2 linked regions of the Homo sapiens genome follow. The protein of the gene in region 1 interacts with the protein of each later gene in a biochemical or structural test. Each region holds a gene or a part of one and is shown in the gene's direction. Other genes may lie near its edges.

Region 1 (11,317 bases):
AGCGAGACTGTCCCCCCACAAAAAAAAAAGAAAAGAAGAAGAAGAAGAAGAAGACTGTTGGCTGGGTGTCGTGGCTCATGCCTATAATCCCGGCACTTTGGGAGGCTGAGGCAAGTAGATCACTTGAGCCCGGGAGTTTGAGACCAGCCTGGCCAACATGATGAAACCCCTTCTCTACAAAAAATAAAAAAATTAGCCAGCCACAGTGGTTTGCACCTGTAGTCCCAGCTACACAGGAGACTGAGGCAGGAGAATCACTTGAGCCCAGCAGAAGGTCAAGGCTGCAGTGAGCTGTGATCGTGCCACTGCACTCCAGCCTGGGTGACAGAGTGAGACCCTGTCTCAAAAAAAAAGAAAAAGATTCTTAAGCAGTATATAGCACAATATACTGAGTTTGACATAATTCTTTAAGGTATTATAAATTCAGTAAAACATCTGTGTGCATTTAGTAGTAACAAGGAAGTTTGAAATTATACATATATATGACTGATATTAATGCCAGTCATATTGTTGAACTGTGTGAAACAGTGATTCAAATGCTGTGTTAGAAATCAAGCAGTAAAGGGCCTTCTGCAAAACACAACAAAGCTTGAGTTCTTCCTCTGTCTTCGTATTTACTGTCATTGAGATTGTTTGAGATGCAGAATATTTGTAATATCTGCAGCAAGATCTGGGCCAAACATACAACAACAGTTGGACCATTAGCACCTGGAAAAGATCTGGTCAGCATTTTTTTTTCTTAAGTAAAAACATCCATGTACTATTTGTAGAGTCTAAGTACTTCTTCCTTTTAGTGACATGGGCTAACAAAAATTCCACATTCTCACCCAAATATGTATCACAACTGATGCTCGGTCTTGTGTTTTTTAGACCCCTCCACGTCGCTGCGCGCAATGGCTTAAAGGTGGTAGTTGAGGAGTTGCTGGCCAAAGGGGCCTGTGTACTTGCTGTAGATGAAAATGGTAAGTGGAAAAAGTCAACAGCGACTGCAGGTACCTTCCATAAGCTAGTTGAAGCCAGAGGAAATGAGAAAGATAGGAGCTAGTATAAAAGGCACTTAAGAATTCTGTCCCCCTTGGAAGTCCTGTGTGTGAGAAATCAAGCAAGGATAACTTGTCCTGTCTGTCTTTTTGTAAATCACATAGTCTACCTGTAGGCCACCCAGTGCTGTCCATTTTGCATGTAATGCCAGCAGCTGGTCTCTAACTCCTCAGCACAGTGGTTAAAATATCTTAGACACACTAAGAGTTTCAAGTTGACACTCAAAATTTTAACTGCAAATGCTGAAGAGTTAGGGACTACACATGTCATTAATGCATGCTCAAGGGCTCAAATAAAAACCTGGATCTTTGATTGTATTTAAGTTCATTCTGAGATCAAACTTTTTTTTTCTTTAAGTACAGATCAGAACTCATATTCCCAGTATGGAAATGTGAGGAACAAGAGTAAAATTTCTTAATTAACGTCTAGGCTTGAAGCTTCCCCTGATCTGTATTAATGTTCCTTTCCTAATGAACTAATTCTTAACAGAAGCTTTCTACTCTGCTTCCTAAGAAATTTTGAAAGGAATGGCTACTAGAATTGTACTAAACTGCCATTTTAAGCACAATGCCTATTAACCTTGGGGAGCAAAAAAGGAACTTCTGGATGTTTATGAATTATGTAATTTTTAAAATGTGGCATTTAATTAAAGTATTATAATGTATTAATGTAACTCAATTAACTGCTTATTACAGGTATTGGAATTAGCAGCTCATGCCTATTTCTCAGAAGTAAGCAGCCATACTGATTATCATTAGCTAACTCTTATTAGTTTTGATTTTGCAGCCCCATGTATCCTAGCATGTACCCTGCTGTGTCCCCCACCTGACTCATCTAGGAAGTGCAGAAAGTTCCCTATTACTCCATTTCCTTGGTTTTCCCGCCTCACCTTCCCTCACCCTCTTAACACTACTGTAGACTTAGGGTTGGCCTGCAGAGGCCCACAGTTTTTCTCCAAAATGGTCAAAGAGAATAGAATAAATTAGTTTTGCTTTTCCTGGTGTAAATCTGCTGCATTGAAGGTTTGTTCAGCTGATAGTGACCTTAGGAACAAGAGCCCTGGGTTGGTGCGCACCTGCATCCCAAAGGCCTGGGAACGTTTGGGGCAATTTTATATAGCAGTACAACCATAATTCCTTTACTCATCACTGACTTTCGTGAAATGGAATGTTAAACTACCTGTTCATTCTTATTTGTTTTCATACCAGAAAAAGGAATGATGTCCTAAAGGGCAGGGTGGGGAGAGCAGGTCGAGTGATGATAAACAAAACAACAAAACGTTAAGTTTCATTGAGCCATTCCTCTGAATTACTGAGCAAGTGCCCTACTCACTGTGTAGTGGAAACTTTGGCCAGCTGAGAAGGCAGCTAACCCTTTTCAGGCCAGTAGGATAAAGGTTGGATAAGGAAATAATCAAGTCAAAGACTTAATCTACCTCCCCAAGGAACCTATATTATGAGTTAAGACAGTTTTCTTATCTGGATTGGATCCATTGAGTCTAAATGAGAATAACATGGTTCTAATTATGACAAGCATAGTAATTTTCTCACATCCATTACATTTTAGATTTGAGACTTTGATTGGTGAGTGGCCATTTTTAAATATTCTGTTAGGCCAGGTGTGATGGCTCACGCCTTTAATCCCAGGACTTTGGGAAGCCAAGGTGGGAGGATCGCTTGAGCCCAGGAGTTTGAGAACAGCCTGGGAAACATAGCAAGACCTTGACTCAAAAAAAAAAAACCAAAAAAAGAAAAAATCAGCCGGTAGTAGTGGCACACACCTATAGTCCCAGCTACTCGGGAGGCTGAGGTGGGAGGATTGCTTGAGCCCGGAAGACAAGGCTGTAGTAAAATCAAGGCCCCATGCCACTACAATCCAGCCTGGGTGACAGAGTGAAACTCTGTCAAAAAAAAAATTTGTTAAATTTCTCCTAAATGATTGTACATTTTTAATCACAAACAACCTGTGCTTTCCTGTCTCTGATCTACTGAAATGATTCCATTTTTCTAAAACCAGTTATTGGTGTCTATTTTCTATGAAGCATATATAAAGTGACAAAACTTCATTACTCACTTTTGCAGTCATCTAATTTTCAATATCTTTTCTAATTGGACACACAATTACCTAACAATGGAAAGTCATTGTTCTCAGAATGAGAGTCCTTCTCAGGCCCAGGCCTGAGGCTCATGGTGTGTGTGTGCTCTCAGGCGGAAACATCCTCCTGATTGTCCTGTTGCTGTTTATTGTGGAATTGTGTCCCACACCCACCCCCTTGTGTTTGTGTTCACTAAATGAAGGCTGGAATCCTGCCTAACTTTGGATGATATTGTGCTTGTCATAGTCATATGAGCTGAAAACAAAAATAAAAAGCCCTCCATAAAATGTCTCCCCCTCCCTCCCCCTCTAGCCTCACCCCTAGCATGACTTGTGAGAAGTAACTCCTCGTTTTACCTGGCATGATTTCTAACTCAACATACATCTCCGCCTGTGAGATCATCCGAGATGTACTGTGGAATGCTCGTGCCTCCTCTAGGCTCCCCAGGACTAACCACTGCCTTGTCTGCATTTACGCCCAGGTCATACCCCGGCCCTGGCTTGCGCTCCTAACAAAGACGTGGCTGACTGCCTGGCCCTCATTTTGGCTACCATGATGCCTTTTTCTCCTTCCAGTACAATGATGGCTGTCAACTTCGTTTGTTTAAAAAAAGACAATTTGAGCAGGACGACCCTCTCCAATCTGGGTAGCATGGTTAGCCTGTGCAGTAACAACGTAGGCTCGGAGGATGGGTACAATGAAAATGATTCTGATTCGGAAACGTTTTGACTTTGGACTGTAGAAGCTTTTCTTTGATCACCTGTGTTGGAGGAAAGGAAAGAAGCTTGAATTCCAGGTTTATGTTGTATTCAAGTATTATTTGGGGCCTGGGCTTCCAGAAGCTAGTAGAGAAGGAATTAATCGAGGGAGGGCAGTGAGGCTGTTGGGTGGAACAGTCACACAGATGGCCCCAGTTTTGTTTTGTTTCACATTTTCTTTAAATCTAAGATACTTCTGTGAAAGTCTACCTCTCATTTTAAATAAAGAATAAAAGATGTATTTAATTCCTGTTCTTTGGGGATAATGCAGCAGAGAGGCAGCTGTTCGCTATGAATAATTTTTCTTTTCATGTATTTAGCAGTGAGTTCTCAGAAGTATATCAGTGTGACATTCATGTCCCCTGGGAGGGAAGGGAAGAGGCAGATAGGAAATGCCTCAAACTTCTTCTCACTTTGATGTTTACTTCCTCACTAGAAGCCAAAGGTAAAGGTGTCCATCTTCAGAAATAATGCCTGTAATAATCTTTTTAGAGAGTCCAACTATTTATATCCTCTCTATAGTAAGCATTTGAATATCCAGAACTTCTTTCTGAGGATCTCTGTTAAAGTTGCCAGATGAATTGAAAAATTGAACTTGCTTTTTTTGTTTAACACAGTGTTCCCTATAACAAGCCTGTGACTAATTTTCACTTAAGTGATTGAACCCAAATTTATCTAATAACATTTCAGGTGAAAATTATATTGCACCAAAACTTTGACACAATATGCAAAAATAGTATGAAACTACCCTTTGTTAATTTATTCTTAAATCAAAATACTAACTTTTAAAAAACATCAGAATCATCAGCATTGTTCATCAGTAGTAAAATGAGCTTCTCAGTCAAGGTCATACCAAGTCAGTGAAAAGTGTGACTGCAAAAAGGAACAAAAAAAGTGAAAGCAGAAAGTAGAAATGGGTGATTTAGCATGTAAAACCGATTGCCAGTTGCTTGATGATGAAATCAACATAGTGAATACTGTGTCTGCTCCCTCTGCCAAAGCTTCTAGGTCAAATGGACCCCGTTCCACACCTGGAACCGCTGTACAAAAAGAAGAATGAGACTCTTTAAAAATTATGCACATACACATGCACACATATATGTGTGCGTGTGTATATATATATATATGTGTGTGTGTGTGTAGTTCATCAGCCAGCTACACATGAGGACCAAAATGCTTCAGTCTAAAATGGAAGATACACATTTTTTTCCTTCAAAATGCAAGTGAGAACTGAAGTAGCTTTTTTATGGAGTTAAATGTAATCTTTCTGTGTACCAGTCTTTGTTGTATTTTATATTTCTTAGGACACAGATTTCTAGTTGACCACTTAACATTTGTAACTGATGATGTGCTGACCTTTTTTTTTTTTTTTGCCAAACTAGAGAAAATGTCCATATACTTTTGCTGTAAATGTGTTTATATTTATTTGAAATGAAACAAATGGTGAGGAAACATCCATTATTTGTTCTCTATTTTAATTGCTATGTATCTTATTTAGAATAACAAAAAAAAAGTGAAAAAAAAAACACTTGACCCTGGGCTAGCCAAAAGCCCAAGGGCCAAACCTAGCATTTCCACTGCTAAGGTTTCCAGATGACCCTCAGGTTCTTCCGCGTTGGTTAGAGAGGGCTACGCATCTTCTACTGCTCAGCCACAGTCTGTAGCCAGCTTAGAGCTTAGAAGACATTGCAGTCTGGATGCCCTTCTGCGAGATGAAAACTCAGATGTGTAGTGGATCATATACACAAAGGCAGCACAAAGAAATATCTAGAAATTACCCTAAGTACACTGAAAAGCTCACATAGTCTCAGTAACCTGATGAGAAATGATGGCAGTGTGTGGGCACATGTGCCAAAAGGAGAAATAAAAATCACCAGCTCAAGTGCTATTTTCTACTTGAGGAAGAGACAGAAAAGAAATGTGTCGAATTAGAGCAGTACTCTCTGACGTTTTATAATGAGTTCCATTTCCACCCTGGAAATTGCTATTTTATAGTGTATGTGAGATATTTCAAAAATAATGTTCTATCATATCTGGATCAAAGACAGATAACTGTATTATATTTTTCATCTAGCTATAAAACTTTAATCTTACTCTTAATATCCTGGATTTAATTAAAACTCCTGTTGGGTTCTTCACAAATGAGAACTTGTTCAAAGGATTTATTGAACTGGTATTGATTTCACTGAAAATTTTCCACACCACCACCATTGTTTTTTTGAATTCTTGGTGTTGTGCTTCCCACCTTCTGTCCTTTTCGTTTGTTTAGAGAAGATGAATTTTTAAAAAGCAGATAAATTGCTAATGAGCAATAATGACCTTATCTTTACCAAAACACTGAAAATTAAGAGAGGTTCAGTGTTGAAGAAGCACAATATGCTGCGGTGTCTTTTTCTAGAAGTGAATGGAAATCTTGCTCAGTTGGCATTTCAAGCAGGAAATGAAATGCTTGCTTTAATGGCAAAGCAGCGTTAACATTTTTCCTGTCGTGTAGCAGAGAGTACAAGAATCATTTCAGCAAAGCAGTGACTCACCATGAGACGTTATCTCCATGGAGCTGCGTTTTGACTTTTCCCACTCTCTTACTCATAGAAGGAGGACAAAGGAACGAAATGAAATCATGCTCACAATGAACTGTTCATTACATCAACTGATCTCTCTCTCTCTCTCTTCCTCTCTTTCTCTTTCTCCCATACCCCAAGGCAAAATTTTTTTAAAGAAATGACTTTAAAAACTATCATTTCTGTATTTTAATTACATCTCTTAGAAATAAAATTATGTTTGCACCATAGCTTTCTAAGAAAAAAAAATGTGTTTTTAACTGAGTCTTAGTTGCTTAGTGCTTTTATTTGTGTTATTTTTAGACTGTATTTTAACCACAACTACAAGGATCATGTTTCATTGCACTTACTTATTTGCCAGTGTCTGCCTGTCTTTGCTAAATACATTACTATCTCCAAATTGCCTAAAATCTGCTATGATTCTACAGTAAATAGCTCAGGGTATTTCTATTTATCACTACTAAAAGGGCACCATAGTATGTTTTGGTACTTTAGGCAGTAAACACTGCTTGGTTTATCATTTTGTTATTAAATTAGAACAAGAACATCAAATGGATTTGCTGCACTAGTTATTCTTTGTACTGTTGAGCAACTTGGTGTGCTTATATGTTGTGTTGGTTGAAGAACTCATCCGTTTTATTGTCTTGTAATATGAAGTTAGAGTGCCTTTTTATATTTGTATATTCTGAAAATGTTCTGTGGAATGTTTTGTATTTTTTCATTTGAGTGTTATCAGAGCAATATGATACCAGTGAGTTTTCATTTCAACTTTTCTTTGAATGTATAAAGTGTCTTTTTTCCTATTTCCCCTTGTACTTGCATTGAAATGAATATGAAAATGCTTAAGTTTTCTATAGGAATTGTTTGATTTTGCAGTGCTAAAATGCTTTCGTCTTACGAAACTATAAACCATAGGTCAGTATTATAGGGGAAAAGCATTTTAAGATAGTGACAATCTGAGTGTTTGTATAAAATGTAATTCTATGCGTTTCTTATGTGATCTAAAAATTCAATGCAAATATCTTTTATTTGGTAGTTTTGTCTACATATTTTATGCTCTAGCATGTGCAATATATCTTTGTAAAGCACGATGATACAAATCTGGTGCCAGTGTTATATTTTGCATAACATATTTGTAACAGCATAAAATATTGTTTGATGATTTCAGTGGGATTTTGTCTATAATGTTTTCTTATGTAAATTGGAGTTGAATGACTCTGGTAAATGTCATGACTGTAAAAATGGGGAAAATGACTTTTAGTTCAGTGAATGACTTTGAAACAATCTGAATCTTCTCAAGCACAGTTTAATACTTTTGCAACTACTGAATGCTCTAATAACGTAATGAAGTACTTAACTGTAATATACTATGGAAATGCATTCAGATGGTTATTTTTACAAATAAAAACGGTACAAATATTGTTGGAATTTGTGTTTTAATTTTTCCAATTTATGCTTTTTCTAAATTATGCTAATTTAAATCTTTGCACCCCCTCAAGCCAAATTAACTTTAAATTTAGAAAATAATCAAGATAAAAGTGTATCTCCAGATTCACGATTTATGTTTGTGTTATCACAATTAGAGAAAAAATTCAAACATATATGCTTGTGTTTATTATATGTATTTATGCTTCCAACTTTTTTCCATAAAGGGTTTTGTTTTGTTTTGTTTTGTTTTGTTTTTTTCTGCTCTGTTGTCCAGGCTGATGGGCAGTTGTGAGATCTCGGCTCACTGCAGCCTCGACCTCCTGGGCTGAAGTAATCTTCCTACCTCAGCCTCCCGAGTAGCTGGGACTACAGATGTGCACCACTATGCCTAGCTAATTTTGTTTTTTTGTAGAGATGGGGTCTCACTATATTGCCCAGGCTGGCCCATAAAGGATTTGAGCTGGGTTATGACAAAAGACGTGATAAACTAGAAATAGAAAAATGAGAACAGAGAAAAAGAATACAAACAGATAAAGGAACCATAAAATTTAAAACAGTATCTGTGACTGAACTTGTGTTTGCTCTCAGCTTCCTTGCAGCCAAGGTAAGAGGAGAAATGTGATCAGTTATATAGTCCACATCAAAAAAGAGGAAGCTTATTAGGTCCTCAAAATTGTGAAATCAACCATGCCTAACTTTGGTATTGTCACCATTACCCTTCAGGGACTTTATAACAACACAAGAACCTCCATCTCTGCACTATCCTTAAAGGTATCCATAGAATTTCCTTCCCCATCTATCTCACCATCCAAAATTTTTCATCTTGAGTAGTAACTTCAGGGACAGTCTCTGGAAGCACTAAGGAACAAATTCCTAATGATGGAGTTTCCAGCTATTGACGAAGAGACTTGGGGGTGGTGCCTGCCTGAGTTCCCCAAATCAAGTAGTATAGAATGTTAGCAGTTATTACAGTCCAGCCCAGTCACATCACCAGCTCTTTCAGGAAGAAACTGAATCCTAGAGAAGTTATACAACTTGAATTTTTGAAGATAGTGATCTGATGATACCACATCTGCCTCTAGATGTTCTCTCTTCGATGCCATCTTGCCATATAATGTTTTGTTTTTTTCTGCCAGAAATGTTAAGGGAGGTTTTGTACTCAGCCCTGCCTCCCTTCTTATTCAAATATACAAATCTGGGTGCTTTTCAATCTTAAAGAATGTAAAACAGGAGTCACACCACAAGTGAGTGCTTCCTGTTGTTTAGAGTAGACTGGGTATATTAGTTATCTATTGCTGTGTAACAAATTACCCCAAAACTTAGTGGCTTAAAACAACAAATGTTTCCTAACCCACAGTTTCTATGAGTCAGCCCTAGTTTAGCTGGGTCTTCTGTTCCAGGGTCTCTCACAGCCTGTAATCATGGTGTTGGCCTGGGAACGATCCATTTCTAAGTTCACTCATATGGTTGTTGGCAGGATTCTTCTCATGGGTTGTTACACTGAGGGCCTCAGTTCCTTGATGGCTGTTGGCTGCCGTCCGTTCCTTGCCAGATGGGCCTTCCCATAGGGAAGCTCACAACATGGCAGCTTGCCTTGCGGGCGAGCAGGCTGAGAAAAGCCAGGGAGACAAAGAGCAAGACAGAGTCACAGATTTTTGCAACTGAATTTCAGAAGTGATATTTCATCATTTTTCTCATATTCTATTCATGAGAAGCAAGTTACTAAGTCCAATCTATACTCAAGGGCAAGGGATTCCCCAAGGGTGTGAACAGCAGGAACAGCAATTACTAGGAGCCATTTTTGGAAGCTACTCGCCACCCTGGTCTATCACGGTGTCCTTTGAGGCTGTAACATCATACTAATACACCTTCTTCCCAGTCATTGCTAAGGAAATTGCTTGCTTGACTGACTGAACTCACCCTTTCAAGGAAAATGTAGAGATCCCTAATTTTAATTGTGTTCTCATAAGCAGAGAAATGTGATAATGGCCTCCACTGTGGTAATTATATTTTTGAACATTGATGTGGCACTTTGTCTTCAAACTGCTTGTCAAAGGTTCCTTCACGCTAATTCCATTTGGTAGGTTTAGATCCCTGTATAAGTATCCCTCACTTAACACACTTAATGTGTTCCAGAATTAGTTTGCAAAGCACAAAAGCATTAAGCTAAAAGGCTATTAACATAAAAACATTGTGGGTAAAAGTACTATATGAATTGTCTCTTTAGCAAATTTCATCCTGAAGGTACATTTGCTGTAAAATATAAAGCACCAAGATAATGGCTGTGCCATTCATTAATTCTCAGGCACTCTAGGGAGTGATTGGAAATGTGTGGGCATTTGTAGTTGGCACAATGGCTGGGGGGTGGGCAGGGCTGCTACTAGAGTATTTATAGTTCCAAGCGCCAGGGAGACCAAATGTGCCACTCAACCCAGGGAATAACTGCGCCACTTAGAATGTCAATGCTCCTCTACCCCACTGCTCACCTATTTGCCTTTCTCTTGTTTCTGAATCATTTCTTCATCAATGTATTGCTTATGACACTAGCCATATTGCCTCATCTATTTTCACAAGGGATTGCATAAACATACTTTATATGCCCTCAGAACGAGAACTTACAAGGTTGAGAAAGAACTTTGGAAGGCAATGCTGAGCACATGTGCCCTGGTTATGTATTTTTCCAGGGGAGAAGATTTGCACAGATCAAGGCATCTTTAATTCCTTTGTTATCAAACCAAAATGTGGCCATACACATGTATATTTCTTGTCTTAAGCAAGAGGTGATTGTATCTACTTTCCCAGTGGGGGGAACTCCTGCTCACAAAGGTGGGGCACTTGGCCCACCGTCACATGGCAAGCTCTGACAACACAGTACTTCAGCCTCACAGGGTTCTCTAGGCACTGGTGGACACAATTTCTAGGATACTATTTTCTGCTTTTAAATGTCAATTTAATGAAGTACTGTGTATTACATTCTGGAAGAATTTTATAATTTTCAAAAGTAAAAATACTGAAGCAGTACTTTTAGAGCACAAAAAGCTTACCTGTGTTTGCATTGAGTTGAAAGTACCCAGCAAATTCGTGAACTTTATTTATATTTTTTATAGTTGGGGTTCCTAAGAATTACTAACATTTAAACTCAGATCCTAACCACAAGAAATTACCAGCTATGCAAAGATCAGAGGAGAGAACATTCTAGGGAGAGGAAAAGGCTAGTGCCAATACCCAAAGGCAGGAATGAGTTTGTTATGTTCTAGGAACAGAAATGGGGCCAGTGTGGCTGGAGACTCAAGGGAAAGGGAGGGTGGCAGAAGATTAACAGCGATCTCAGCCCAGACATAAAATTTTGTGAGCTGGGAGGAGTTTCTATATTTTTCTGAATGTGACAAAAGCCACTGGAGAAATGTAAGCAGAAAAATGGCTGTGGTCTGATT
Region 2 (11,698 bases), on another chromosome or scaffold:
TGCAGGCAAATATCATCATAGCATTTTTTAGGAGAGTAAAAAGTTATTAACAACTTATATTTGTCTCACATTAGAGGAATGGTTAAATAAAGCATGGTGTATTCATTGGATAAAATATAATGCAGTTGTTGAAAATGATTACTAGGAGTTTTTGCTAACATTTATGGGAACATGCTTACGATATGTGAACATTGTTTTAAAAACAAGACATAAAGTTGCATATACTGGAAATAATACCTTCAATATTGAAAAAAATACTATTTAGGAAAAAGGACAGAAGAAAATCTGCCAATATTTTGACAGTGGGTTGCCTTTGTATTAAGAATATAACAGGATTCCCTGCCTTTTTACATTTTTCTCTGCTTTCCAAAATTTCCACATGAATATTATACCTAGTAATCAGAAAAAAATAGAGGGGCAATCACTCTTATCCTTTATATTTCTCTCCTGTTTGGACCTCAGATTCCTCAGTAGAAAATGAAACTAGATGCCAGCCTGGGCAATATGATGTCACCCTGTCTTTACAAAAAATGCACAAATTAGCCAGGTGTGGTGGTGTGCACCTATAGTCCCAGCTGCTTGGGAGGCTGAGGATGGAGGATTGCTTGAGCCCAAGAGATCAAGGCTGCAGTGAGCTGTGATCTCGCCAGTGCACTCCAGCCTGGGTAACAAAGCAAGACCCTGTCTCAAAACAAAACAAAACAAAACAAAAACAAAAAAGAAAAAAAAATTAAACTAGACAAATTCTTAGGCCTCTCTCTTTAATAGTCTTATATGAAAACTATTACTTCATTTCCTGTGTTTTGTGTTAAAGATGAGCTTTAAAGCAACTCTGAAAAAGAAGAGGGTTCCTATAGGTAATTTATAGACTATTTAAACAGTAGTAGAGGATCTAAGCATAGATCCCAAGAGGTAAAGGGAATCTTTATCACTTTGGGAACTTTTACTGATAAATAGAAATTACTGTCAGTACAGTCCACAAATATGTTGTTTATCAGCCATCTTTCCTCCCTGTCTTCCTCTAGCACTGTAGCCTGTGTTCCCCAGAAAATATGGTCAATAAAATTCAACATTCTTTACTAGCTTACTCTCATTTGTGGTTGGCCATAAAGTATTCCTGGTAGAGATAATAGAGATAATGTTTAACTGGCCATGAGAAAGGAAACACTATCGTATATGATACACCCCTTTTTCTACTCATTCCAACAACGATGATACAGCACGTTTCCTTTTGAAGCACGTGTTTTTTCCTTGAGTGACCAGTTCAAAAGATGATGACAGTTAATATCTTGTTACTACAGAATTTGTACTCAAAAAAGAAGTCTATAACCCAAGTCCAAGCCAGATTTCCTTTTCTAAAAAAAGAATTTTCCTCTAAGTTCCCCTTTTTAAATGAGCTCTTTAGCCTGGGTAGTTATGCAGTGCTAGAACCGTAACTGCATGATCAAACCCAACCTTGCTAGTTTATAACAGCATTTGACAGCCTCGTGACTCTCATGTAGGGAAAAAGTCTCGCCTGAAAACCCATGCTAAGCTGAATGTCTTGAGCTGTGCCAATTTGTATTCCAGGCAGCCTAAGGTTCCCATCATGAGTTTCAGGAAGGGAAATTCATGGAGGAAGTTCACCTCTGGAAGGGAGGAGCAATAAATAGGGTGGGTGATGGACATATGTGACATTTGCCACAGAGAGGCAGTCAGTGTGGGCCTTGTGGTCCGGGCTGTGCTTTGGGACACAAATATATACTGTGTGAAGTCTTAACGGTAGCATTCATAACCCTGATGCTTCACCCACCTTCCCATACATTAGAGGGACAAACAGAAGGATCCCAGCTCTATGGTTCTTGATTGTTTGTCAGGTAGCAGCCAGGCATGGAGAGGGAAAAATTCTTTCTCTTCTGCTGCATTCTAGATCCTTCCTTCTCTCCTTCTTCATTCTACACCACCCCCAACATACATCCCTGCACCCCGCCCATTCTTTGCTCTCTCTCCTTTCTTACACTTGACTCCTTCTTGCTCCACAGCCTAACATGCTGATTAACAGGACCCCAAAGGTTTGGGTGGGTATTAGAGGCCTTCTCAACAAAAGCAGCACACTCTTGAGCTTGTTCTTCCTTTTGTTGCCATCTCAGATAAAAAGGCCCCATGAGGGAGGAGACAGATAATTATAGACTTGGTATTCTGATAACTCTGTGTTACATGGGATCAGATGCAAATGAGTTGTACCCTGTGGTGTTTCATGCTCTGCTGTGTTGTCTTCTCATGGTGAGCTTTTCTGTGCCCTCATTTCATCCAGCTCTGGTTTCTGTGTTTCATGTTATTTCTCCTAGCCTCGTAAACTCTGCAGCATACTAATAATGCTCTGGCTTTCTGATTAAAAATAAATGGCTTACTATCAGCACCCCTGGCTTGAGGGCCAGCTCACATGTAACCCCTTATAGGATTCCAAAGTTGTTAAATAAATTCAATTCTTTTTGTTTTTGTCATTTTGAAGCATTCAAAAATCTTTCAAGAAAAGTTATGGTCATATAAACAGAAATTTTATCCAGAATGTTACTGATGTAACATTTGTGAATAAATGTGTAGGTGTTGTATTTGCTCGGACTCTAGTTTGGGTTGTGTTTTCTTTTCCCTTTTTTTGAGACAAGGTCTCTCTCTGTCATCCGGGCTGGAGTGCAGTGGCGTAATCACAGCTCACTGCAACCTCTACCTCCCAGACTCAAGCAATCCTCCTGAGTAGCTGGGACTACAGACATGCGCCACAATGCCCAGCTAATTTTTAGATTTTTCTTTTACTGAGACAGGGTCTCACTCTGTTGGCCAGGCTGGTTTTGAACTCCTGGACTCAAGCGATTCCCCCCACCTCGGCCTCCTAAAGTGCTAGGATTACAGGCCTGAGCCATCATACCCAGCCAGTTGTATTTTCTTTTTCCTTATAAAGAGTAAAATAAGGGTGAGTGACCGAGCGGTTGATGCATAGCTAGATCACCAGTTTAAATGCCTTCCCACACACCCCTTTCCTCCTGTTCCCTCTACCTACAGGTTGTAGATAAGCATGAGAGTGTGGAGCAGAGTCGGCGAGCGCAAGCCGAGCCCATCAACCTGGACAGCTGTCTCCGTGCTTTCACCAGTGAGGAAGAGCTAGGGGAAAGTGAGATGTACTACTGTTCCAAGTGTAAGACCCACTGCTTAGCAACAAAGAAGCTGGATCTCTGGAGGCTTCCACCCTTCCTGGTATGTTACGGTCCTGCCTCTGAGAGAGCAGGAATCTAGCATAAAAGAAAGAAGACATGAACAAACAGGAGGTTTTGTTATTTTTGAGAATAAGACTTTTCCTGCAGCAGTGTTTAAAACACATTCTGTACAAGGTTTTTATGTTGAATACAGAGATGAATCTTTCTACAAATATTTGGTAGTTCCTTTTCCTAAAAAGCTCATAACCTAGAAGAAGAGATCAATCATGTAGCCCAGTAACTGCAATTCAGTGCGATGTGAGAACTGCCACAAGGGGTACAACGTGGTGAATGTGAACTTCAGGAGAGGGTGAACTTCTGGCTCTGTGGAGAGAGGAAGCTTAGGCTAGCCCTTTGTGGACTCTAGAAGAGCAACTGAGCCCGGGGGCAATACCCACTGCACATAGTCACGTGGCTGTGGCCACACTGCTGAGTTGAGCGCGTGTGCACAAGGACGCCAGTGCACTAGGGCCTGTGTAGAGGCCTTTATGAAACCATATTTTTGAAGTCTTTAAAAAATAATGAAGAGTAAATGTTCTGTTATATATTTCCAAACATTCACATGTATTTGACTTGTTTTTTCCATGTAAATTTTGTATCTTCAGAACCCTTTAATGCGATGTTTTCTACCTTTACTTCTCCAGATTATTCACCTTAAGCGATTTCAATTTGTAAATGATCAGTGGATAAAATCACAGAAAATTGTCAGATTTCTTCGGGAAAGTTTTGATCCGAGTGCTTTTTTGGTACCACGAGACCCGGCCCTCTGCCAGCATAAACCACTCACACCCCAGGGGGATGAGCTCTCCAAGCCCAGGATTCTGGCAAGAGAGGTGAAGAAAGTGGATGCGCAGAGTTCGGCTGGAAAAGAGGACATGCTCCTAAGCAAAAGCCCATCCTCACTCAGCGCTAACATCAGCAGCAGCCCAAAAGGTGAGGCCTGGGGGCCTTATGCAGTTGCTTTCTTGGGACTCCTGTAGGCTACATATGTTTCTCTGTCTTCTGTTCTGGAACATCAGGTTGGTTGGGTGGAAGGAACCTATCTGGAATCAGACCTATCTGTATTTGAGCTATGTAAGTTGTAGCAAGAGATTCAGCCTCCCTGAATCTATTTCCTCATCTGTAAAATGGAGATAATGCCAGGTTTACAGAGTTGAGAGTTTGACACATGGAGAGTAAAGCACTTCACACAGTGCCTGATGTATGGTAAACAGGAATGGTAGCTGCTGTCTTGTCCCCTTATAGTGAAAGTTCTGAGGTTCCCCATCTTTCAGGGGGTCTAGAGGATCAAAACTCCTTTTTTATTTATTTATTTTATTTTTTGTTTTTTTGAGACAGGGTCTCACTCTGTCACCCAGGCTGGAGTGCAGTGGTGCAACACAGATCACAGCTCACTGCAGCCTGGACCTCCTGGGGTCAATCAATCCTCCCACCTCAGCTTCCTGAGTAGCTGGGACTACAGGCATGCACCACTGCACCTGGCTAATTTTTGTATTTTTTGTAGAGATGGTGCTTCGCCATGTTTCCCAGGCTGGGCTCGAACTCCTGCACCCAAGTGAACCTCCTGCTTCGGCCTCCTAAAGTGCTGGGATTACAGGTGTGAGCCACTGTGCCTGGCCCAAAATGATTTTCATAAAAATACTGAGAAAATATGTGCTTTTTCACTTTTTTTCTCTCACAGATGTACAATGGTGTAAGAGAAAACATGACATGGAATAATATCGTCACTTTGACAGTGAAGTCTGTGCTAATGTATTGTACTTTTTCATTCCTCAGTTTTAATTTCTAATACAGGAAATATTGATAGATAAAATTCACATAAAAGTTCTAAAGGTTCTCAATAATTTTTAAAGGTATAAAAGGGGGTAGGGGTAAGAGGCTATAACTAAAAGGTTTAAAGCCTTGCAGGATTTTTGTGAGACACAGAGGTAACAACGGACAGCAGGAAATTCCCAGTACCATGCCTAACAATAGGAAGTACTCAGTAAATGGTGGTCACATTTTTTGTCTAATTTTACAAAGGAGAGGAATATGTATTTGGAAAACTCCTTACTCTAATAGTTGGATTTTTTTCAACTGAATCATCATAAATCATAATCATCTTTCTGCTGTTTTCTGAGTCCCTATAATGCACTTTACATTTTCAGGACATTGTTGCTTATAGGGACTTGGCATTGAAGAAGACAAAAATGTAACTTACTGGCTACACAATAGGAACCAAAGGGTAGCCAGTCATGACTCCCCTGTCTTTACCTTTGTGTGTACAGTTGCAAAGCTAACCTCGGAGTTAGCATTTGGGGCTGGCTTACTTTCTGGCATTTGGATTTGTGAATCTTTTCTTCTGTCCTGTTCACAGGTTCTCCTTCTTCATCAAGAAAAAGTGGAACCAGCTGTCCCTCCAGCAAAAACAGCAGCCCTAATAGCAGCCCACGGACTTTGGGGAGGAGCAAAGGGAGGCTCCGGCTGCCCCAGATTGGCAGCAAAAATAAGCCGTCAAGTAGTAAGAAGAACTTGGATGCCAGCAAAGAGAATGGGGCTGGGCAGATCTGTGAGCTGGCTGACGCCTTGAGCCGAGGGCATATGCGGGGGGGCAGCCAACCAGAGCTGGTCACTCCTCAGGACCATGAGGTAGCTTTGGCCAATGGATTCCTTTATGAGCATGAAGCATGTGGCAATGGCTGTGGCGATGGCTACAGCAATGGTCAGCTTGGAAACCACAGTGAAGAAGACAGCACTGATGACCAAAGAGAAGACACTCATATTAAGCCTATTTATAATCTATATGCAATTTCAGTAAGTGGTTTATTATACGGTTTTCAGAGAGTGGTCTGTGTTTTGTTCACTTGTCTTCATGTATTCATCAGCAAGTATTTTTCAGGTCCTGCTAATTTCCTAGCATTGAGCTTAGTGATAGACAAAGTTAACATTGAAATCTGGGCTCACAGATGTGGTGTGGTGGCTCACACCTGTAATCCCAGCACTTTAGAAGGCTGAGACAGGAGGATCGCTTGAGCCCAGGAGTTTGAGACCAGCTGCTTGGGCCCCGTCTCTACAAATAATTTTAAAATGGAGCGAGGTATGGTGGCATGTGCCTGTGGTCCCAGCTACTTGAAAGGCTGAGGCAGAAGGATCACCTGAGCCCAGAAGGTCAAGTCTTTAGAGAGTTGTGATCACTCGACTGCACCCCAGCCTGGGTGATAGAGCAAGCCCCTGTCTCAAAATAATAATAATAATAATAGTAATTACAATTATAAAATGATTGTTTATCCACACAAGACTTGGAGCTTATGACTTTTGTATTTTGCTTTTTGCTTATTTTGGTTTTAGAGAAAGAGGGTTCTAAAATATTTTCTCACCTATTGATCATTTACATGATCAGTGTTCTCCTGCTCAGATCTTAGTGCTATACCCTGGCCATAGTACAGTTAACTACTAACATACCTCCACTCTCTTATCTCTTACAGTGCCATTCAGGAATTCTGAGTGGGGGCCATTACATCACTTATGCCAAAAACCCAAACTGCAAGTGGTACTGTTATAATGACAGCAGCTGTGAGGTAAACATTCTCAATCTTTGAATGAAAGTTAGAATATCAACAGAACTGGGGAACATTTGTTGAAATAATGGACTATCTCTTGAATAGGAAATAGATATTTCTGTTAGAATTAATATATAGATGCTGTCAGTATTAAAGGAACAAAAGTGATATGCAGAGCAGGGAATGAAAACATGAGTAGTGAGGAAAAATAAAGAGTTAGTTGACCGGGCGCAGTGGCTCATGCCTGTAATCCCAGCACTTTGGGAGGCTGAGGCAGGCTTAGGAGGTGGATCACTTGATGTCAGGAGTTCGAGACCAGACTGGCCAACATGGTGAAACCCCATCTCTACTAAAAATACAAAAATTAGTTGGGCATGTTGGCGCATGCCTGTAATCCCAGCTACTCGGGAGGCTGAGGCAGGAGAATGGCTTGAACCTGGGAGGTGAAGGTTGCAGTGAGCCAAGACTGCACCACTGCACTCCAGCCCGAGCAACAGAGCAAGGCTCTGTCTCAAAAAAAAAAAAAAAAAGTAGTTAGTTAATGCAAAAAGCTCCTATCTTCTAGACTGTTAGAATTTGATGGGGTTGGGCCGAGCGCGGTGGCTCATGCCTATAATCCCAGCACTTTGGGAGGCCAAGGTGGGCGGATCATGAGGTCAGGAGATAGAGGCCATCCTGGCTAATATGGTGAAACCCCATCTCTACTAAAACTACAAAAAATTAGCCAGATGTGGTGGCACATGCCTGTAGTCCCAGCTGCTCGGGAGGCTGAGGCAGGAGAATCGCTTGAACCCGGGAGGCAGAGGTTGCAGTGAGCTGAGATTGCACCAGTGCACACCAGCCTGGTGACAGAGCGAGACTCCATCTCAAAAAAATAAATACATACAAAATAAATAATTAGAATTTGATGGGGTTTTAGGTCATTCTGTTTTGACTTGTCTATGGTCAAAATATTTTCCCCAAAGCAAACATTGGAAATAATGGGGCTCATTTTAAAGGGGCAGGTGTGAGACAGCCAAACTAGTGAGCTTATTGGAAGCAATCAGGTTAGTAATTACAGAGGGTTGGTCTTCCCTTTCCTGGCAAGGATTTAGAGTCATAATAGTGATGGCTTTTTGTTAAAGGTTTTTCTTGCCCTTTCAGGAACTTCACCCTGATGAAATTGACACCGACTCTGCCTACATTCTTTTCTATGAGCAGCAGGGGATAGACTACGCACAATTTCTGCCAAAGATTGATGGCAAAAAGATGGCAGACACAAGCAGTACGGATGAAGACTCTGAGTCTGATTACGAAAAGTACTCTATGTTACAGTAAAGCTACCACTCTGGCTGCTAGACAGCTTGGTGGCGAGGGAGATGACTCCTTGTAGCTGATACTTGGCAAAAGTGTCACTGAAAGACAAGCTAAATGTAGTTATTTTATCCTGTTAGAACAAAAATTCTAATTAAAATAGTTAACTTGAAGAGTAGAAACAATTGTATTTTGAAGTCTCATACAAGCTGTCTGATAGAGAACTTTCAGGCAGATCCCACCATTAGCCTGTAAACAAAAGGTGTGGCACCAGCCACCTGGGACCAAATAAGAATTGAATTGTGCTTGTCCAGATATGAACAAATATGTAGTGAGTATAGAGTTTACCAATAATCATAACAAATATTAAAGATTTCCTTGGAGTCAGAGGAAAAAACAAACAATTATAATGTTGTCTAGGGACGACATGATACGCTACCTCCTTTTTCCTGAAGTTTTATTCCATTATATTGACAAGATGGAGAAAGCAAGATCATGAAGGTGTGCAAATGATTCTTACGGCATGGACAAGGATTTTTCAATTTATTTTTTAAACTGTTTCCATACCCTTTCTTTTTCTTGCTTTTTGTTTTTGCCATTGTGTTTACGTTTGAGACACAACCAGTCATTGGTGGCAGGGGCATAGAGTGGTCAGTCTGAAAGGGAGGCTCTCTTAAGAGCTATGTGCCTTCCAACCAGAGGGAGACCCAGTAGAAAGAAAAACATCCTGGGAAATCCAGCTACCAGGGCCCTCCCAGTGGAGGCATCTTACATTTAGGCTACTTCAAGTATCCTCAGAAATGTATTCTGCACCCCCGGCCCCGCCCATGCTGAGGGAAGGGGAGCAGTTGCCAATATTTGCACCATCTTCACATGCACATGTTGCAACAAGAGCTTCTGGGAAGGTAAGCGGCATCGGAGCTAGATCACGTTTCACAATTAGTGGTTATTCTTTTCTGTGTTTGTTTTGCACTTTAAAAAAGAGAGAACACATGCAAATGAACTTGCTTGTGTGTATTTGATGGCTCTAAGGGCTATAAATTACAAACAAAACACATCCCAGACATTAGGAGTTCATAAGTATATTTAATGAAATTGGTGGTTTTAGGAAGTCAACTTTAGTTTTGCTTTGTTTGCATGTCCACTGGTTTTTTTATTTTGATATTTGTCTTTTTTTAAATTTTACAGTAGTCATTGAAAGTTATGTTTCTTTGCTTACTTCATTTTTTCCCTCTAATTATTTAAGATTGGAACAAAAGTATAAATATTATTTATTTGAGGTAGAATTTTTTTCATGTAGTTTCTTAATATATACTTGAAGGAAATGTTTCACCTTATTTTTGGTCTTTGTTTATTCATTTAGACCCTGCAAGTTGATTCTCATTGCCAGATTCCATTACCCTTTCTTCCTCATAGGTAGTAATTACCAATGTAACTAAGCATTTGTGTTCTGATATCTGAGGCCAGTAACTATTAATATCTAGTTCTCAGAGCATTTGGAAAGGTTATCTTAAATGGCTACCTAAATTGAAATCCTTTTCAGAAAAAATATAATTGCAAGTAGGTAGGAGTGGCCTAAATTGTCTAATGTAATAAAGTCAGACAAAATGCACACTTTATAGTTTCAAGATTTTCAGTAAATAAAATCTGTCCATTCCTACCTGGACATGTCCCATTAAAAAGTGGAAGATTTTAAATAATTTCTTTACAGATGTTTTATTTAAACAGGTAGCACAATCTACTAATGTTGTGTGATTTGTGTTATACTGGTTGTAATTAATTTTTTTAATTCATGAACTAGCGGAAAATTTATTAAATTAACTATTAACTACATTCACCTTGTAAATTACTGTATAAAACTTGTTGACAATGCACTGACTTTAGAAAGATGTTAATGTACATAAATAGAGTGTAAATAAAATAGTGTTGATGTACTGAAATATGAACTGTATCAAAAGTATTGGTAATTGTATATGGGGTGTACCTGTTTATCTGTTAACTATTATCCAAACAAATTAAATACTGTGGTTGCCTCTATGTGCTGTTTTTCCTCATACAAGTAAACACAGAAAGTCAAATTCTTCAGCCTCCCTCTCTGTGATCCTGTTTTAATTCTCCTACTTGAATAATTTCTTTCTGACTTGTATACAGAGGGGATGCTTCATCTCTGAGGTTGGAAACTCTGTAGAGCAGGATTCCCCAACTCCTGGGCTACAGACCAGTACTGTCCATGGCCTGTTAGGAACCGGGCTGCACAGCAGGAGGTGAGTGGCGAGCTGTATTTATAGCCGCTCCCCCTTGCTCCCATTACCGCCTGAGCTCTGCCTCCTGTTAGATCAGCAGCGGCACGCCATTCTCACAGGAGAAAGAACCCTATTGTGAACTGCGCATGCTAGCAATCTAGGTTGTGTGCTCCTTATGAGAATCTAATGCCTGATGATTTGAGGTGGAACAGTTTTATCCTGAAACCATTCCCCCCATCCCCCCAGTCCGTGGAAAAATTGTCTTCCACAACACCCATCCCTGGTGCCAAAAAGGTTGGCAACCACTGATGTAGAGGGTAGAACAAGATCTCTCCAGTGACCAGGTGACTTTAAACATGGCTCACATCCCTTTTAGAAAGTTATGGCAGGGAAGCAAGTAGAGAGCAGGTGGTAAACTGAGGATTGGTGCCTACATTGGTACCTACAGTGGGTCCTACAGTCATTTTTGTGCAGATCAGGAGATGAGGTGAAGAGAAGGAAAGCTTCTCATTTGCATAATGCCTTGAAATGACCCTAGGTTTCTAGCGGGCACCGAGAAACCAGAGATGCCCCTTGTTGTCTGTCTGGGAGATCCAAGGAGACATCTGGCAGTGTTGAGAAGAGATGAAGGTGACAGCTGTAGGTCCTTCACCCTCAGCTTCTATTTGTTCACCTATAAAGTTAAAATACGGAACACTCAGGCTTGTAAGAATTAAATGAAGGACACAAACCCTGGCACAGTTGCTTGGTAAGTGCTCAATCCAACGATATTCAATCCTATTTCACAAAGAGGGATTTTTTGTTTGTTTTGTTGTTTGTTTCTTTACCTCCTTGCTACACCGACGCTAAAAGAGTTTAATAGTACTCTGTTCACATTTTCCAAAAACAAGAATACACATTAAAAATGTATAAAATGGGCCAGGCCCAGTGGCTTACACCTGTAATCCCAGCACTTTGGAAGGCCAAGGCAGGCGGATCACCTAAGGTTGAGAGTTCCAGGCCAGCCTGACCAATATGGAGAAACCCCGTCTCTACTAAAAATACAAAATTAGCCAGGCATGGTGGTGCATGCCTGTAATCCCAGCTACTTGGGAGGCTGAAGCAGGAGAATTGCTTGAACCCGGGAGGCAGAGGTTGCAGTGAGCCGAGATCACGCCATTGCACTCCAGCCTGGGCAACAAGAGCAAAACTCTGTCTCAAAAAAAAAAAAAAAAAAAAAGAATAAAATGAAACATGTTGAATCAGCAGCAGTGGCAGCTTGTTTAAGGAACAAACAAACAGAAAATTAATACGGAAAGTCAAAAAATGAAGCACAACTCTTTTAAGTGCCAGTCTGTTTTTAGGTTTCTTCTTTTTTTTTTTTTAAATAGAGACAGGGTCTCTGTTGCACAAG

The links.
Region 2: the proteins of ANKRD44 (region 1) and USP6 form a complex in vitro, tested with the Homo sapiens proteins (one study listed by BioGRID and IntAct).

What each region holds. Positions count from the first base shown.
Region 1 is NC_000002.12:196,983,228-196,994,544, reverse strand, and holds the end of ANKRD44 (serine/threonine-protein phosphatase 6 regulatory ankyrin repeat subunit B), read left to right. Parts: intron 1-870; coding exon 871-962; intron 963-1,736; coding exon of another isoform or gene 1,737-1,789; exon of another isoform or gene 1,790-3,398; intron 3,399-3,448; coding exon of another isoform or gene 3,449-3,465; exon of another isoform or gene 3,466-3,617; coding exon of another isoform or gene 3,618-3,865; exon of another isoform or gene 3,866-4,895; coding exon 4,896-4,954; 3' UTR 4,955-7,883; downstream 7,884-11,317. UniProt on the Homo sapiens protein: Putative regulatory subunit of protein phosphatase 6 (PP6) that may be involved in the recognition of phosphoprotein substrates.
Region 2 is NC_000017.11:5,164,893-5,176,590, forward strand, and holds the end of USP6 (ubiquitin carboxyl-terminal hydrolase 6), read left to right. Parts: intron 1-3,039; coding exon 3,040-3,231; intron 3,232-3,874; coding exon 3,875-4,163; intron 4,164-5,586; coding exon 5,587-6,023; intron 6,024-6,694; coding exon 6,695-6,787; intron 6,788-7,912; coding exon 7,913-8,086; 3' UTR 8,087-10,099; downstream 10,100-11,698. UniProt on the Homo sapiens protein: Deubiquitinase with an ATP-independent isopeptidase activity, cleaving at the C-terminus of the ubiquitin moiety. Catalyzes its own deubiquitination. In vitro, isoform 2, but not isoform 3, shows deubiquitinating activity.